Linked DNA regions of Homo sapiens: region 2 is linked to region 1. Evidence: fine-mapped expression QTL. Tissue or cell type: fibroblasts. Region 1 holds a variant in brackets; the other region holds the start of a gene. All regions are shown on one strand. Distances are between the middles of the regions.

Region 1 (9,603 bases):
GTCCTTACACTCGAGAATGCTGCTGTCTGGCCGGCTTGCTGAGAGCACAGCAAAGCGGTTGCATTGGTGACCACGGCAGCCTCTTTACTGTTCCCCAGCGACTAAGGTGCCTGGACCATCCCCTATGCAAACACACATTAGACCCCTCAGGTTCTGTGCCATGGATACTCAGTTAACCCAGAGCTGTTGTTGGATTCAGAGTGGCCCAGGACTGCCGAGGAACATCATGGCCAAAGACTGTGTATTTCACCTTCCAGTTCTACCGCTTCCCACCCGCAACGACGCCACGACTGCAGCTGGTCCAGCTGGATGAGGCCGGCCAGCCCAGCTCTGGCGCCCTGACCCACATCCTCGTGCCTGTGAGCAGAGATGGCACCTTTGATGCTGGTGAGTACTCATGTGCATGGCAAAGGCAAGACATTCTGTACTGAGTTGTGTGTGTAAATTGTCAGTGTTATTAAATAAGTGGTACTATGAAAAGTTTAAAACATATGCAACATTAGAATCATACGGTGACCAGTGCAGCAAACACTTAGCCCCAGCAGCTCTCAGCTGCCTCCCAACCCAGCGTCCTCCCCCAAGCCAGGGTTATTTTGAAGCAAATCCCAGACATTATATAATTTCATGTATGAATATTTCCTTATGTATATCTAAAAAATTAGGAATTCTCATTTGAAAAACATAAACTTAAGGGGTATAGCCCATCTAAAATAATAACTCCTAATATCATCAAATATCTAGCCAATGTTAAAATTTTGCTAGTAACCTCATAACATTTTTTTAAGTTTGTCCAGAAATAAGGTCCATACTGGTCATGGAGCAGTGTGACTCTTCAGTCTCTGTCTGCAGTTGCTGCCACCGTACCTGTCTCTGTTGTTTCTTTTTTATGTATTTATTGAAGAAGCCACATTGTACTGTAGAGCGTCCACCCCACAGTCTGGATTCTGTTTTTGTATCCTGGTGGTAACATAAAGGTGTTGTTCTGTCCCCTCTTTAGCTGTAAATTGGGAGTTAGATCTAGATGCATGATTAGATGCTTTTTTTTGTTTTTGGCAAGAGTTCTTTGTAGCAGGTGACGTTTGCGCCACCTCCTGCACCTCCGCTGCGCCCTTGGCGTCTGCTTGCTTCTCTTTGTGTTGCGTCAGCAGCCATTGTGCCCACCGCTGTGTCATTTGTGCAGAGGTGACGTTCTGCTTCTAGAACACCTCCCTTGTTTGTTAGCTGGGATGCTTCCAAAACCAGAAACTTCCTGGCATCAACTTTTTGCTTACCTTGAGGTGCAGTTTGTATAGGAAAGGCTGGATAATACTTGATTCTTCCCTTTATTTGCCAATTTCTGAAGTAATTACATGATTCCCTGGCATCCTTCAAGGATGGGGACTAATGACTTTTTTTTTCTTCGGGTATCATTGTAAACGAATAGATTGAAGCTACATTGAATAGAAACACACCTGACATGTTGATATTTTTATTGATGGTCAGTTTCCCCATCTTGGTCAGTGACTCAGCTCATAAGGGACCCAGCTGGGGTCTGAAACACTGCCGCCTCTCGAGGTAGAAAGTGGCAGATGGGAAAAGTGATGTTAAAATGCTGACCTCAAATGAAGTAGCCTAACAGTGGCACCTGACAGCAGAGACACAAAGCAAATGCAGCGCTAGGGATCAAGGAGGCTGGTAAACAATAACCAAGAAAGTAATTCACTAGGAAAAGAAACAGTTCTGAATCCGCGATCTTCTAACATACGTAGCCTCAAGATAGAGAGGAGAACTTGATGGACTTATAAGGAGAAATTGGCAAACCTCCACAATCATGGGAGTTCTAGACATACTTCTCAGTAGATTGATCAAACAGAAACAAGTTAATAAGGATATTATAAAATACAGTTTAAAAAGGTGATCTGAGAAAACCTGTACATCCCGTTTAGAGAATATGCATTATTTTAAAGCATACTTTGAAACTTAGAAAAACTGATCATCATTCATATATATTTTTTAGCTCACCAAGCAGGCATCACCCTATACTGAGAGAATCGGTATCAAATCTAATTTTATAACTTTCTCTGGCCATAATGCCACAAGATCAGAAGTCAGTCACTCCCTCCCCTACAACCACTCTGAACTGCTTTTATTTTTTTAATTTTAAAATGTGCTTCTAATTATTCCATGAGTCAATGAAGACCTCAAAATAGAAATGCGTAATTATTTAAAACTGAATGACAAAATAATATTGCATATCAAAACTTAGGAGATGCAAGTAAAATTGTAATTACAGGGGAATTTACAGTTTTAAATGCCTATGTTGGTGAAGAAGAAAGGTACTCTTTAAGATATTGTTTTAATTGTTCAACTTAAGAAGTTTTGGGGAGAAAGACAGAACAAACCCAGTAAAAGTAGAAGGAAAAAAATTTGATAAGTGTAAATGCTTAGAAGACAAAACAATAGAACGGGTCAACCAAACAGTTGGGCACCAGGGTCACCAGGTACAACAGGGCATGCTTCTTGTTTCTTGTCCATGGGCACAGTCGGTCAAGAGAGGCAGATGGCGGAGATGAAAATATCACTTTCTTTATCATGCATTTATTCATGATAAAGAGGGTGTAGGACTTGGTTGGTCTGAGAGCCAGCTGTGCCCACTGGCGCCAGCCCCTGATGTGGATGGCCTTTGATGCAGGTGGAGGTTGGCCAGACAGCAGCAGGCTTTGCACCTGGGGTGAGCCCTCGCCTCTCTGCATGCCTGGAAGCACATCTCGGACTGTTGCATTCTCTCCTGTGGGCAGATCTGAAAAGAAGAGAGTGGGGAGGAGGAGTGAGCAGCCTAGTTAGTTAGTTAGCTCAGTTAGGCTATTCCCCATCCCCAGTCAGTTGAGCTGCTCTTGCCCTGAGAGGCATGGGGGCTGGGCAGAGAGAGGCCACAGGAAGTTCCTTTGCATAGAGGTGTGAAGCCAGGGAAGGCTGTGCTCCTACAGCATTTCCAGGGTTTGGTTTTCTCAACTCACTGGCCTTCATCATTACGTTTATGGCCAACCAGGGGTGTGGCCTTTGTCTTTGGGGGAGGGGGCTGGTCACCACCAGGGCGGTTCCAACCTTCCTGAATCACTTCAACTAAGCCAACCACCTTTCCTTTTTCAGTCCTCCTGAGGCCTTTGGTAGACAGTCCAACTGATGTCCCCAGAAGGCTGTAAAATGGATCAGACTAATGCATTTGTCTCAAGGCTCCTCTGTACCCACTGCTGAAGACTCATTCCCCACTCTGTTTCCCATTCCAAATTCCATCCAGTCATTTTATCCAGCACAGCTCATCAGAGGCTCTGCAACGAAGTTAAATGATAGCGTTGAGACCATTCAATAAAAAAGGCCAACCACTTAGAGATGCTCCTGACTTGAATATAAACCCCTTTCCATGATGAATTTCCCAGAGAGGAATTAAAGTCCCCAAATTAAATTTCCTTGCAAGTTGAAGTCCAAAGAAATGAAACTCCAAAATCAAATTTTTCTTGTCATTATGAATTAAAATTCACAGTCCAAAATTCTTAAGTTGAAGTCCAAAAAAACCCCACCCGACTGATTTCAATTTCTTACATATCTGAGTCTCTGCCTGGGCAGGTCTGGGCTTCCTTCAGCAGCCGCAGCTTGTGGGAGGGTTCTCCCTGGACGGGCATGGTTCCCTAGGGCCTTGGTAGTTGCATCAGTTCAGGACTGAGCCTCTCATAAGCCTCACTTAAAAGATATTTGTTGTTGTTGTTGAACTGTAACATGCGTACGGTAAAGACAGATTGCCAGTGCATGGTTCCATTATTTTTAAAAATTAGTAATTTTATTTTTTTAGATCAGTTTTAGGTTTACAGAAAAATTGAGTAGCTGGTACAGAGAGTTCCCGTAGGACCTCCCCCCACCCCAACAGTTTCCCCTATTACTAACATTTTGCGTTGGTGTGACATATTCTTTTTTGTTTTTTTTTGGGTTTTATTTGAGACAGGATCTTACTCTGTCACCCAGGCTGGAGTGCAGTGGCACAATTATGGCTCATGGCAGCCTCGACCTCCTGGGCCCAAACAATCCTCCCACCTTAGCCCCCACAT[A/T]GCTGGGACCACAGGCATGCACCACCATGCCCAACTAATATTTTTTTTGTAGTTTTTGTAGAGATGGGGTTTTGCCTTGTTGCCCAGGCTGGTGTTGAACTCCTTGGCTCAAGTGATCCTCCTGCCTCAGCCTCCCAAAGTGCTGAGATGACAGGCGTGAGCCACCATGTAACAAATGTAACATTTGTTACAATTGATGAACCAGTATTAAAAAATTATTATGAACTAAACTCATAGTTTACACTAAAGTTCATTCTGCATTATACAGTCTGTGATTTTTGACAAATACATGACATCATGGATCCACCATGATGGATCATACAGAATAGCTTCATGGCCCTACACCTCCCCTGCGCTCCACCTATTTAGCCCTCCCCTCCTCCCCTGGCACTACTGTTCTTTTGACTGTTTCCATGTTGCCTCTTCCAGAATGTCATACAGCTGGAATTATGTAGTATGTAGCTTTTCAAAACTGGTTTCTTCCCCCCAGCACTGTGCATTTAGTTCCTCCATGGCTTTTTGTGTCTCGCTCACTCACGTATTGGATTGCTGAATGATACTTCATTGCACGTATGTGCCACAGCCTGTTTTTCCATTCACCTCTTGAAGGGCATCTTGGTTGTTTACAGTTTTTGGCAATTTTGAATGAAGCTGTCAGAAACATTTGTGTACAGGGTGTTGTGTGTACATAATCTTTCAACTCACAGGTAAATACCAAGGAGTGTGATTGCTGGATCACGTGGTAAGAGTATGTTTAGTTTTGTTAGGAGTCACCATACTGTCTTCCAAAGTGGCTGGGCATTTTGCATTCCCACCAGCAGTGAATGAGGATTCTGGTTGCTCCATATCCTCACCAGCATTTGGTGTTGTCAGTGGTTTGGATTTTAGCCGCTCTAGCAGGCAGTGCAGTGGTGTCTTGTTGTTGTAATTTGCAGTTCTCTAGTGACCTATGATGTGGAGCATCTTCTCATGTGCTTATTTGCTGTCTGTGTATCTTCTTCCCTGAGATTTCTGCTCAGATACCTGAACAGATGTCTTTTTATATTTTGGATGCAAGTCCTTTATCAGATACGTATTTTGCAAATGTTTTTTCCCTATCTATGGCTTGTCTTTTTATTCTCTTACCAGTATGTTTGGCAGAGTGAAGTTTTTCATTTTAGTGAAGTCCAGGTCATTAGTTATTTCTCTCATGGATTGTGCATGGGTTGTATCTGAAAAGCCATCTCTGAGGTCACCTAGATTTTGTTCTGTGTCGTCTCCTAGGAGTTGTATAGTTTTGTGGTTTACATTTAGGTCTGTGATCCATTTTGAGCTAATTTTTATAAAAGGTATAAATTTTACCAAGTGAACACACCTGCGTAACCACCTCCCAGCCCGGAAGGGGCTCTGGAACAGGATGCAGAGGCCTCCCTCACCGCAGTCCTTCACCTCCCCCAAGGGAACCACCCTTCTGAATTCTGCCACTGTACATCAGTTTTGCCCCTTTTTGGACTTCGGTGGGATCATGTTTTATGTTCTGTTTTGAATCCCACTTCTTTTGCTGGCCTCTTGTCTGTGGGGTCCCTGTTCTGTCTATAGCAGTAGCGTTTCTGTTTTCCTGGCTGTAGAGAAGCCCAGTGTCGGGTGATTCTGTGATGCTTCTCCATTCAAACAGGCGTTGGAATGGGTTCTAGTTTTTGGCTCTTCTGCATAGTGCTGCTGCGAGTGTGCTTTTGGTGCGCACGGCCGTTGTGTTAGAGATATGCCTGGTAGTGAACGGCTGGGTTGTGGAGCAGCACCTGTTGTTAGGTTTAGTGGATCTGCCAAGCAGGTTTCCCTCGTGCTGCGCCAGCTTCCACATCCATCAGCAGGAGACAGGCAGCCCAGACAGCGCCATGTCCTCGCCAGTCACGTGGTGATCGCTGGTTTTCTTTGTTTCTTTGAACCATCCTGATGTAGAGGCATCTCGTGGTTGGAGCTTCCTTGATGATACCGAGTGCCTTTCACAGGCCTGCTGGCCTTAGGGGTATCGTCGTTCATGAGGCATGTGTTCAGGTCCCCTGCCCATTTTCTAGTGTGTTGTCTGTGTGTGTGTGTGTGTGCATGTGTGGGTTTGAATTGATAGGCATTCTTTCCGTATCCCGTCACCAGAGTTAATAGGACATGTAAGATTTTAAAGCACTGGCCCCATACCCACCAAATTTAGACAAGCCAATTCCCAGCCCTGAATAGTTGTCCTAAGGAAAATTATGTTCTCAGAATCCAAAATTTGACATTGCCAGAGACTCAGGTGTCTGAGTGAATGCGCGTAGATGGGAGAATGCCTTGGTTCCAGCTTCCCAGGCCTTTGCCATGTCCCGATCAGGAGGAAGATCCACTCAGAGAGCGGCATCTGAGGCGTGGCTGTCTGCCCGGCAGAGCCGCTGGGGGGCTCGTGCCAAGGCCCTGCACGCTGGTCCTACTGAACTGAAGCTTCCGGCAGCCACGCCCGTGAGCCTGGAGGAGCCAAGGAGCCCAGGGCTCCCGAGAGTGGTTTTCTCCGTGTTTGGGTGTTTGGAGCTGTGAGTGGCCTTTCTTCTCATCACCTCTTCTTCCTACACTTTTTGGGGGGCTCTGCCGAGGGCGTGGTCTCCCCTGCGTGTGTTGGTTCCCTCCTTGGCCCTGGGCTTGGTGCCTTCAACCCTTTTTGTTTTCTTCGCTCCTGTCCTGGCCTTTTGCTTCCTAACATGTTCCTCCTGGTGTTTTTGTCTTGTGGGGGCCCTCCTCAGTGTGAGAGCTGAAGTAATTGAATTTTGGATCAGCCAAGAGCATCTGTTCTTCCAAAGAACGCGGTCCATTTCCTCTCCCTGGGCTGTCCCAGCCGAGAGGCATCTCCATCAGACCAGCCTCCAGTCCTGCTCCGGGCCACCTAGCACAGCCTTGCCGTCTCTTCCTTAGTGGATCTCCTCTTTCCCGGGCCTTCTGCGAGAGCCCTAATCCCATATGTCCCCACCTGCAGAAACCGTGCCATGTTTTGGAACATTGCTTAACTGTTTATCTTGAATTATTTGAAAGTAAGTTGTTGACATGCATGGTAACACTCTACCTCTAAATAAGCAACGTGCATCTCTTAAAAATAAGGTACCCTTTTATATATGTGCAATTCTAGTATCACATTTAAGATAACACAAATTTCATAGTACCATTTCCCCATTTGTCCCCCATGTGTATTTTTTTGATCTGGGATCCAGCCCGGTTTCCTGTATTGTATTTGTAATTATCACTTTAATCTCGTAGTCGCCTGCATTCTTTTCCAGTGACACTGGCTTTCAGGAGAGACCAAGTGAGCTGTCTTGCAGAACGTCCCGTGTTCCGGGCTTACCTGGTTGCTTCTTCATGTTGTTGAACTTGTTGCTTTATCCCCCGTAGTTCTTGAATGCCGGGAGCGACGGCTGAAAGCTGTTTGATTCTGGATCTCAGCATGAACACTTCATTGTCAGTGCTGTGTGCTTCACAGCCCACCACCTCAGGAGGCGCGAATGTCAGACTATCTCATTGTTACGACGCTGATTCGGTTGCTTGGTTAAGGTGCCCACCCCCAGGTTTCTCCTGTAGAAAGAGAGTTTTTTCCCTTTGAACTGACTGAAGAATTCTTGGCGACATTTTTTGGCTTCATGCAAATATCTGGTCCCCAGCAACCTTCCACCTCTTGTTTTAACACCCTGGGCTGAGCTTTGCTTGCGTCAGTTATTTAATTGGTGTTTTTGAAATGGTAATTTGTCTAATTCTATCATTTGGTCTGCTCTGCCTTTATTAGCTCACATTCTTTGTTAAAAAAGAACTTTCCCTACCGATAAGCGATGAACTACATATACATGCTCCACAAAGACAGGACAAAGGTTTAATTCTTTCCCTTTAATTGCCAGTTTTCAGAGTGAGAAGTCGGTGGAATAGTTAGCCCAGCAGTGGGATCCCAGTGTTAGGTGTCCGGCTGTTTTGCTTTGTCTTTGGAGCGTGGCTGCGGTCTCCTGCATCTTCATCGATGCATGGGGTTGCACTCATTATTATTCCGGGAGCCCTTCCGGCCTTTCACCGGCTCTGATTGGACTTTGAGCGCGTCCTGCTTTCTGGAGCAGTGCCGGTTCCAGGCTCATCTTGTGCTCTCCCTGCCGCCAGCCAGGGCCCGTTTCTCTGAGGAGCCTGGTCTGCCTGAATGGGGATGACATTTCAGAGATCAGGATATGGGGTGCTTTGATTCTGGGTCTTCTTGCTTCAAAACCTTTCACCAGGAAGAGCTGGGAAAATGTAAAATGTGAGTTCATGTTGATCTTCCTAAGTCAGATTTAGAATTTTTCTCATAAATTTCCTTCTATTATTTGTATGTGTCTTACACAGAAAATCATGGTTTCTCATCATGTATTTACTTATTTATCTTGCCTAACAACGTATAGAATGCATTTTCACAATGACACTGCTGATGTTAATTGTTGACTTAATGTCAACAGTGCGTGTCCTGCTGAAGTCAGATTCTTCGCAGCTCCTTTTGGCCTCTGTCCCACCGAGGGTTCAGAATTGGTTTAGTGTGACCAAAAGCCCTCAAAATAATTCTTAGCTCCAGTTTGATATTCAGTATGATTCATTTATTTTAATTTGTTTTCACTTTTATGTTTGCTTTCCTTTTTAATTTTTTTGGACTATTTACATGGTTGAAAGTTGAACACCGTAGCCCAGTGTGTGCTCGGGCCTCCCTGCTCCCCTCATCCCTGTGGGCTCCTCCCCCTGCCCAGCCTCCTAACAACAGTAACCAGACTTTTCGTTTCTGGCTGACCCTTCCAGTGTTTTTACTGATTTGTTTTTTCAAAAATAAGCAAACATTTACATTTTATTTTCCCTGTTTTCTAATTCAGTGGTAACATACCAAATACACTCTTCTGCTCCCTGCTTTTTTCAGTTAATGTCATAGCCCAAGTTTGGCTGCGCAGACGTCGCCTGTGCCCGTCTCTACGGTAGCTGCGTCATGCTCTGTGGGCTGCACAGACGTCACCTGTGCCCGTCTCTACGGTAGCTGCGTCATGCTCTGTGGGCTGCATAGATGTCGCCTGTGCCCGTTTCTACGGTAGCCGCATCATGCTCTGTGGGGTGGTTATGCTGCTCTTTATTCAGCCGGTCTCCTAATAGACGTTTGTGTCATTTCTAGTATTTCGCTATCTCAGCAATTAGTAACCTTGGTTCTTTCTGGTTCTGGAAAGGGGATAATGGAATCACAGGCTTCAGTGGTGTTGACAGACACTGCCCCACACCCTCTCTCGGGTGCCGCTGCCCGGGGCCACTGGCAATCCGTGGGGCTGCTGGTTTCCTCCTGCTCACCGTCAAAATGGGGCGTTAACGGGTGGTATTTTTACAGTCCCATAGATGTGAAGTCCATCTTAATGCAGTTTTTTTGTTGTGTTTTGTTTTGTTTCTGTTTGAAACGAAGTCTTACTCTGTTGCCCAAGCTGGAGTGCAGTGGCGCGATCTTGGCAAACTGCAGCCTCCACCTCCCGGGTTCAAGTGATTCTCCTGCCTC
Region 2 (9,603 bases), 91 kb before region 1:
GTCTGAGTGGAAACCTGGGTGTGGCAGTGGCAGGGCACCCTCAGGCAGGGAGGGGCCTGAGCCCAGGGCTCATCCCATGGTGGGTGTGCAGGAAGAGGGAGGCTGGCCTTCATCTGAGTTCCCCAGGATGTGGCAGAGGACAAGAGGGCCCAGCATCTGCTCAGGCCCATGAGACAGGGAGTCTCACGCATCTGCCAAGCCCAGGCAGGCAGGAAAGCCTCGAGCCAGTGGGCAGTGACAGGACGAAGCCCAGGTGTGCCACCCCATCTCCCCCAGTGTGCTCTCTCCTGGGGAAGAGGGTCCTGTTCCCTTTGCCTCCTCGGGACTGGCTGAGCGGAGATGGTGTATCCCTTAATAGACTCACCCGAAGATAGACCAGGAGGGGCCTGAACATGGCGGGTCACCCGTCACCAAGGAAAGAGCAGTGTGGGGCTTCCCACGCCACGACAAAGGAGTGCTTCCATATCCCCCAGGGTCTGGGCCTGGGCCTCCAGGGCCTCTTGGGAGACTCACTCCTGCAGAGGTGAGGATTTCAGGCATTCGATGGAGCTCAGGTGATGGCGGAGGGGGCACCTCTCACAGAGTTCTGGCAGGGCAGGAACAGAATCAAGGTTTCCTCACTAGCTGGGAGGCCAGGATCAGTTTCACTGCTGCTCTGTGCCTCAGTTTCCCTATCCAGCCTCCCTCACAGGGTTGTTTACAAGTGCCGGAGGCGAACTGAGGTCATGAGTGTAGTTCCAGTGTGGGGAGGGTCCCTCCTTTCCTTCATCCCACCACGGACCTGGTGCCCTCACTCTTCTCTAACTATGGGGCCATCTCTTTGAAGGCCACGAACAACAGTACCCTTGCACCAGGGCCTGCATGCCAGGCAGGACTGAGTCGCTGAGAAATCTCCATGGTAGTGGCACCTCCCAGTCCCAAAAGCCCCTCCAGTGACCTGGACACACCCAAGGGCACTGGCTGCGCCCATGAATGTCAGCAATGCCTCCAAGTGGCCTTCTGAAGGGACAGCCGGTCATGTCCTCGGGGTGCTGGCTTCCCCCAGCTCGGACAGCCAAGGCATGAACTGGGCTCAAATAAGTAGGAAGTAGGGGGTCCAACCCAGCTCCGTCACTGCCTCTGTTGACCCTGGAGAAGCCTGTCCTTCCGTTTAGTCCTCTGAGAGCAAGGATGACCGGCTGCTGGGTGCCAAGACCCAAGTCCTCCTGGTGGTGGGAGGGGGACTGGCGGGAACATGGGGTCTATGGCCCTAGACACCTCTGGCATCAATCCTTCTCGAATTGCCGCCCCGAGCTGCCCACTGTCCTGCCTCCTTATTCAGGGACGCCAGGAAAACATTCACTCTGGGACCTCTGGCGGCGTGAATATCACTGAGAACTTAGCCGAGGACCAGACACATACCGCACCTGGCCAGAGTCCCTGGAAACAGAAGCACGGTCCCCTGGTTCTCGCGAGGGAGCAGGCTCTCCTTCCACACAGATGATGTGTTCCCAGTTACCACGGCAGAGCACCAACACACAGGAAGGTCTAGGGGAGGCCCCTCCCTCCAAGCCCAGGCCGGAAACTGCCAAATCAAAACTGTGTGGCACTCGCTTCCTCCTGAACCATTTGGGTCTTAGAAGATGACTGAAAAATGAAAGCGAGGAAGCCTTCTCTAGCTGGCCAGCCCATGGCACCCTCGGCCTTTCCAGCTCTCTAGCGCCATGGCCCACGTCCCACCTCCCGGGTGCAATGGCTTCTGTGCACACTGCTTCCCATCCAGGCTCCAAATCCAGACCCAAGACGGTTCTCAACCAAGAAACACACGAAAAGGGTTTCACACTTTTTCACGACACCCCCCAACTCCAGTGCCTGGCTCAGCCCCCAGGTGTTGACTAGCACCTACAAAGCATTTGCTGACTGGCGCAGGGAAAAAAAAAATGGCCCTGGGTGTCAACAGGGAAGCCCCTACCATGCTGCTCTCGAGGGATGTGCTGCGGCCCGAACACTGTCAGTGCCACTGAGGCCGAGTGTGGCCGTGGAGACAATGACAGGACCTGGAGGACCAAGTGCACTCTTAGGGCCCCACACTGCGAGAGCACAGGGCCAGGAGCTGCACAGGGCTCTGCAGCAGACACGGCCGCCAGGCGAGAATCAGGTGGGCAGATGTGACTCTCCACACGTAGGTCCCCAAACCCTGCAACCTGCAACGCGGGGCCTGAATGCGGCTTCCTTAGCAGAGCAGGAGCTTACTCTTGGCACTGGGGGAAAGGGGAGGGGTGAGGCTGGGGTTTTTGTCGGGGAGGAGAAGTTGCAGAGAAAGAAAAAATCCTGAAACGACAGACAGTGGGACAGCTGTGGCCTGAACTTGGTGTTCTTGCTCCTCGGATGTGGATGTATTAATTTCCATAAATGCTAATAGCCCACTTCCCCAAGAGCTATTACTTATGTCATCTCCCCTTGGACACAGTTCAACACAGGGCAGACAAATGAAAGGGAGGAAAAGACAACCCCCAGTGGCGGTCCCCAGCTCCTCAGCCCCCTCCCAACCAGGCAGCTCAGGTCTGGTTCCTAAGGTGGCCCTGCTAACCGCAGGGTCAAGACCCCTGCCTTCAGCTCCGTAGCCAGGTCCCTATCACGACAGGAAGCAAGAAAGTTACCAACCCCAAAAATGCTGAATCACAAAGTGAGGCTGAGCAGGAAAGTGGGGGTGGGGAGGGAAGGAGACGGTGGCCAGGGAGGAAAGGTGCTAAGGGGCTTTCCACCTGGAGCACCCCGGGATGCTGCGGGCAAAGCACAGTCCCTGTAAGAGCCCCCAGGACAAATGCCAGGAGGAGGGACACCAGGATGCGGCTGGTTGGCGGGGTGGGAAGGTGGGCAGGTACCCCGGCTGCTGCTAATGCCGCAGGACGCGGTGCAGCAGTGGGGTCTTTGCATCCTGGGAGCAGCAGCAGGTAGGGAGGTGCGGAAGTGCTTTGTGCCAAGGCCTGGCAGGAGGGAGAAGCTTAAGATAGGAGTAGGGGCTCAGGGTCAGAAGTGGCGGTGTGTGTGCTGTAAACAGCCCGAGGAACTGGTGCAGGAAGCAGGGTCACAGTCTTGGGGAGCAGGGTAAGGTGGTGAGAGCGTGCCCGCGGGGAGAGGTCGGAGGGGCTGGGGGCAGAATGGGAGGGTGGGGAAAGGGACCGGAGCGACACAGGGACAGGCAGCGAGAACGACGGATGAGCCTTGAGAAGCGATCAGGAGGAGAGATGGGGAGGACCGGGAACAGCAGCGCCCCGGTGGGGCTGCGCAGAGGCCGGGAGAGGGGATGAGAGGAGGATGGAGGAAAGGGGAGGGCGAGGCTGCTAGGACCGGAGCGGGCAGAGATGGGGAAGAGGTGCACCGGGAAGAGGGACGGCGGCAGGGGCAGGGGTCAGGGATGCGAGCTGAAGGGTCGGGCGGGCGGGAGGACAGGGAAGGAAAGACAGAAAGGGATGGGGGAAGGGAGACGATGGAGAAGGAGGTGAGGAGGCTGGAGAGGAGGTGAGACAGCGGCGGAGGCAGGGACGCAGGGCCGGGGAAGAAGAGATGGAGACGGGACCGCGGCGCCTGCCGCAGCGCGGGCCTCGCGGATACCCGCCGCCGCCGTCCCGGAGCAGCTTGGTGGAAAGCGCGCCCCGCCGGGGTCTCCCCGGTACTCACCTGGGGGCTCCAGCTCCGGATCCTGTGCCCCGCGCCGGATCTTCCTTCCCGCCCTGCCCCTGCGACTTTAGCGCCCCCGAATCCCGCTAGCTCCTGCAGGTTCCGCCAGCAGCATCTTCACCTCGTGGGACGCCCGGGGCCACGCCTCTTCCAGCTTCTGATTGGCTATTGTTCACGCCAGTCACATTACCATTGGTTGAGGGGTCGTCGGACATGCAAATCAGGATGGGCCCGCCGCCGCACCGATTGGCTGGCGCTCGCAAAGCGCAGCCCTCGACTTGGGCTCTGATTGGCTCCGCGGCCCTGACGGCGACAGTGACGCGAGGCGGGTTCTTGGACTGAGTGTGCGGCGCGGTGCGCCGCCTTCCGAGGCTCCTCCCGCGGGTGGCAGCGGACGGGGCGCGCCCCTCGGCCAGTCCTCGGTCCTCAGGCTTGTGGCTCCGTTGAGCACCGGCCGCCGGGCCTCTGGGTCCGTCGAGTGGAGACTCTCTGAAAAGCGTGGGCTCCGTGGCCTCCGGCGCGGCCGCGGCGGGTCGGTCTCCTAGGTAACGCGGCCCGCGGCGGGCGGAACCATGTGGGCCGGCGCCGCGGGGGAGGTTGGACGCGGCCTCGAGGCACAGGGGGCCTCAGTGTTGGCCAGAGCCTCGGGGTTCGGGGGTAGGGTGGTCCACGCCGTCCCTGCGTGGGGGCCCGGTGCCTGGGGTGCGGCGGTGGCGCGCGGCGGGGGCTGTCCCCGCGTTAGTCGCAGGCGTCCCCCCTCGTCGGGACACTTGGGGTCGGGGCCGCTGGGTGCCGTTTGGCTACGTGGGTTCCTTTCTGCCCTTGCCCTTTGCCCCCTGCCCCCTGCCCCCTGCCCCCTGCCCCCTGGCCTCTCTGCAGCCCCTCGGCTGAAGGGAGCGCGGTACCGATGTTCTGGGCCTTGGCTCCCCGCGCCCTAGTCCGCGCGCATCCTTCCCAGGCCGGAGTCCGCGGACCCCGCCTGGCCGCGCCCCTCCGCCCCTCCTCCCCGCCCCCCGGCTCCAGCTCCGGCTCCGGCTGTCAGTTCCCCGCGGTGGCTCTGCGGCCTTCGGGCGTCCCTGCGAGGCTTTGTACCCGGCGCCGTCCCGGCCTTCTGCGCCCCTTTCCTGCCTTGGAACCTCCCGGCCGACCCGGCCCGGAAGGCGCCACCCGCTCCCGCGTGCCCTTCCCCACGCGTGCAGGCTGCTCCCGCCCGCCCCCGGGCTTGCAGGCACCTCGCTGCCCGAGATTCCTCGTGTCTAACTTCTTAGGAGACCGCTGCTTTCTGCCTCCGTGTGTCGCGATGTGTGGCTTTGGTGGACGTCTGTGAAGGAAATCCAGCCTCTCGCGTGTGTAGTTGGCAAAAGGAGGAGTATTTCTGTTGATGGTGGGCAGCGCCTCCCGGTCCTAACCCAGGGCTCCGTTCGTTGCACCTCCTCTGTGCAGTTTCCGTAGGTCACACTTGTGTCTTTTTGTATGCTAATTTGTGCCCCGTTTCTTTACATTCTATGGGGGTAGCGAGCTTGTCTGCTGTGTTCAAGACCGTTTCTCCCGGGCGCAGGGTAGGTGCTGAAAGAATGCTCATGAATGAGGGAATTCCAGGCAGTGCTTAATCAGACCTCTGCTTCCCCAAAAGCTCCCCAAGGCATCTGGGTCTCAGGCATTACACATTTTCCATTCCGGGAAGGAGGCTTCCCGGACCCTGACAGCGCCTCCCACCCCCTGCATCTTCCTTCAGCCCTGCTCACCTCTGCACCCTCCCGGGGGCCTGTTGCTGCTCACAGTCACTTTCTTGTCTTTCTCCCCCACTGGCTTTCTAGATGCTTGAAGACAGCACATTTGACAGCCTTCTTATGCACTGGAACACAAGTGCTCGGGAAATAGTTGCTGAATAGATCAGCAGAAGCAGAGATCTCAAGGAGATTTCACAGCTCTCATTTTGGAGGTTGGAAACAGGTGGGGAGGCTGCGAATCTGTCCTGAAGTTAAAGAGGAGACAGCATTAGCCCTGGGTTCCTTTGGTGCTCTTACTTTTTCCCTCTGGGCCTCTCTTCTCCCTTGGCCTCTCCTGGCCTCCTTGATTGAGGTAGTGGGAGGTAGTTATAATAGCTTACAGTATTATATCTATAATACTATTATAATAGCTAGTTATAATAGCTAGCTGTGTGACCTTGGATTGGCTGTTTATCCTTTCTGAGTCTCAGTGTTCTCATCTGTAAGATGGCGATAATGATGATTCTCATTTGGCAGAGTTGTTGGAATAGTAACCATAGAATGTGAGTTCCTGTCTTGCATCAGGGGCTCATTAAAAGTGGGTGTATTTTCTTCTTCTTCTTTTTTTTTTTCCCCTGGAGAGCCCACTGTACCCTTTTCTTGGGTTCAAGACCTGGAGCCTTCTCGATTTTCTCTTTTATTGTTGATTTGGCCCCAAAGGCCCCTCTGCACTTCCTCCAGGGCATTTGTATTTCATCCTTAAAAGACTTTTGCTGAAGACCCAGCCTGGTGTCATGGAGCTCACAGTCTCGCAGGACTACAGCACAGCCCTGGTGAAGCGTGGTGGCTCTTCTGTCACCTGCCCTGTGTGGGAGCAGCCGGAGGTGGGGGATGGGGCTCTCGCTCTGAGGAGGGAGCATTTGGTTTGACTCCTAGAGGCCAGAGCAGAGGTGGAAAGGAGCAAGGAGCAGGTGGAAGGGCACCCGGAGAGGTTTGTGAGGTGCTGGGATGGCAGTGAGAGCTGCTGCGGGCGCTTGGGCTCCCACCTGCAGAGTCTCAGGTGTCACCTCGGCCTCCGTGGCCCCTCAGACTAGGACTGCCCTGCCTCCACATCCCGAGCCTCAGGACTTCCGTGTGGGTGGCAGGTGCTTTCGGAATGGATGCCCTTCCGCCTAGTGTCTGCCCTCCTAGTACAGCAGGGGGCCGGCATGCTTCATGCTCCCTGTGAGGGTCGACTGGCGTATGCACGTCCTTCAGCAGTGTCCTTGGGCCAAGTGTGGCACTGAGTCCTGCAGACACCCAGGGAGAGGGCAGGAGGCACCGGGTCAGAAATCTGGGGCAGGTGAGGAGCATGGGCATCTGCGTCAGGAGAGACTTCCTCTCTGAAATCCCCACCTGGGGCCATCACGGCCTGCATTGTGTGTGAATACATTTCTGAATGTTATAAAACATCAGTGGGAAAGAAAAGCTTGAGGGTAGCTTTGCTAAAGCTTCTGTTTGGTTCCGTGACCATTTACTGAGTTGTGACGGTACCAAGAACACAGGAGGAATGAGGCTTCTTTCTTCAAGAACTTGGCCAGCGAGCAATTCAACACAAGATAGGTGACGAATGATGTGACCAAGGGAAGCACAGGGGCCATGTGAGCCTGGGGCCTGGACCCTGGGAGCACCTGGGAAGCCCTCCTGGGGGAGATGGCCCTTGAGCTGGTATTGGTCAGGTGTCTTCTGCTTATAAGTCGTGGACAGCTGTATGATTTCCTGTGGCTCCTGTAAGAAAGTCCCACAGACTTGGTTGCTTAAAAGTAGCACAAATTTGTTCTTTTCCAGTTAGGCCGGTCAGAAGTCCAAAGTCGGCTCTCCCTGTGGTGGCTCCTGGGGCTCTGGGCTGGCATGGTGTGGGCAGTTGTGGGCATTGGAGGAGAGACATCCTGGGCTCAAGTCTCCCGGGGAAGACTGATGGCTCAGTGTGGGCCATGTGTTCCTCCTTGAAGCAATCACTGCAGTCTCTGGCTGGAATCGGGGAGCAGCTCTCCCCATACATGGAATTGGGTCAGGGTCCTCCACAAAACAAGGGAAGTTGAGCGACAAAAATAGCCCACAGAGAACAAAAAGGAACAAACCAGCATGTGTGCCTGCTGGATTCACACAGGACCAGACTGAGTCTGGTCCTCAGGAATACCTGGCCCACATGCAGCATCTGCGTGCACTGTGGGTGGAGGCGGGACGCTGGGCCAAGGATGCAGCGTCTGGGTGCACTGTGGGTGGAGGCGGGACCCTGGGCCAAGGATGCAGCGTCTGGGTGCACTGTGGGTGGAGGCGGGACCCTGGGCCAAGGCCCCTCTCAGGCTGCCTGGTCATGTCCTCTCGGTTCCCACACATGCCGGGAGCATGCAGGGGGTGAACCATTAGCACAACCCTTCTCAAACTTTTTGGTCTCAGATCCCTTTACCCTTTAAAAGATTATTGAGGACCCCAAAGAACTTTTGTTTATGTGAGTTATATCTACCAATGTTTACTGCCATAGAAGTTAAAACTGAGAAATGTTAAAAATATTAATTTATTTAAAAATAAGGCTGTGACATGTTAACATAAAAACATTTTTTACAAAAACCAACTATATTATCCAAAACAAAAAAAAATTTAGAAGAGTGGGATTCTTTTGCATTCTTGCAAATATCTTTACAGTCTCCTTAAGAGAGGACAGCTGAAGGCTCCTGTTTGCTTCTGTACTCAGTCTGTTGCCTTGTGTTGCCTTGGTTGAAGTATGTGAAGGAAATCCATCCCGATCTAGTTAGGGAGGAGTCTCTTGGGTCATTGTGGATATTCTTTGCTGCTGCATTGAAACCCTACGAGCAGAAGTTTCTTAAGGATTTGTTCTAAAGCAGAGTCTCCACCATGTGAATGAACTCTTCGTGCTCTGACATTAAACTCCTTTGGTCTGTCTTGCACTTTGGGTGGATGTTTTCTTCTTGCAGGATTTTGTACCATTACGCATTGTTCAGAAAATATTGGTTCACGGAGTCATGCAGACCTTCCAACTATTGACACATTTAATGGTGTAACCTTAGAAGATCACGTTATATCACTGCCCCTCTCATCAGGAAAGTCTTGAAGAAGTGTGAAGCTAGTAGGCTCATGGTAGAGGATACAAATGTTCTTAATTCTCATTTTTGCTTGGAAACTCCATTTTTGTTGCAGTTGTTTTCCCGGAAGTGACATGCTAACTTTGTTCACGTTTGAGAAGATGTCTGCCAAGTACCCATGTTTGTCTCTCAGTCATTCTTCTTAGTGAAAATGGTGTTGAATAATAAAAGCGGTGTGTTCAGCATGCAGCCCAGTCACAGCCAGGCTTCCCCGGGGATGACTGTTGCCTTTCAGTTTGCAGCAGAAATGCTTGTTGTGTATTTTCCATTTCGTCTCACAAAATTAAGAACGTGTGTACTCAAAGGTCAAGAAGTAATAAGATTAATAGTTTTTCCGGCTTCACCAAGGATGTTCTTACTTGAAGCTGCCTTGTTCTTTTCTGTGAGAGGTTGGGAGGACCTCACTCAACCCAACCAGCCTTGGGTTGAGTGAGGCCCCAGTGGCTTTCCCTGCTGCTGCCTCTGCCCCACCATGCCACCATGGTGAAAGAGATAACACCTGGGTGTCATGAAAATAGTTTTGACCTTGTAGAGCCCCTGACAGGATCCTGTTGAACCTTGGGTTTGGGGAATGTACTTAGAGAGCTGCTGTCTTAGAAGGCCAAACCCACTTCTTTTTCTCCTTACTCGCCATTTTAGTTTACGGAATTCAACCTCTTCTTGAGGTTCAGATCTTTGGATTCTGTGTTGGCTAGAGAAGATTTAGATCCCGGTCTGGCTGGACAGGATCAGATAACACTCAAAACGGGCCAAGACCCACCAAGAAGCTGGTAACACCTGAAACCTGTCCCCAAATGGCTTTAGCAACAAGAGACTTTGTTCATGTAGCTGAAGTGTCGTGGGGTGACCAACTGAGGTCTCTAATAATGACATGGGGACCCAGTGGCCCTCACTCCTACCTTTTCCTCTCTGCTTGTTTTTATGTGTGTCCTAAGGTGGCCCCGGGCAGTTTCAGGCTGACCACCTCTTGGCCCAAGGGCTGTATTCCCTCTCTCATGCTCCCTGGGTCCCCTACAAGACAGTCTTAACGCTAGGACTGTATTTCAGCAGCCACCCACCCCTGGTGTCCTTGTGTGGTATCCAACTTACAC

Evidence for each region. PIP is the estimated chance that this variant, and not a neighbour inherited with it, causes the effect.
Region 2: it holds the start of NPHP4, and the variant in region 1 is fine-mapped to the expression of NPHP4 in fibroblasts (GTEx, PIP 0.97).

The regions. Positions count from the first base shown.
Region 1 is chr1:5,895,401-5,905,003 of GRCh38, reverse strand. NPHP4 (nephrocystin 4) reads left to right here. Exons shown (of 30, transcript NM_015102.5): 16 at 200-387. Among named protein-coding and RNA genes, the nearest start is that of MIR4689, 37 kb to the right of the region's middle. RefSeq lists enhancers at 7,008-7,807, 7,808-8,609. The variant A/T (reference allele first, on the strand shown) is at 4,080.
Region 2 is chr1:5,986,846-5,996,448 of GRCh38, reverse strand. NPHP4 (nephrocystin 4) reads left to right here and starts at 4,024. Exons shown (of 30, transcript NM_015102.5): 1 at 4,024-4,205. It also overlaps a transcript of KCNAB2 not described here. RefSeq lists enhancers at 2,675-2,724, 4,601-5,455 and silencers at 3,475-3,724, 3,805-3,984, 4,025-4,194, 4,345-4,524.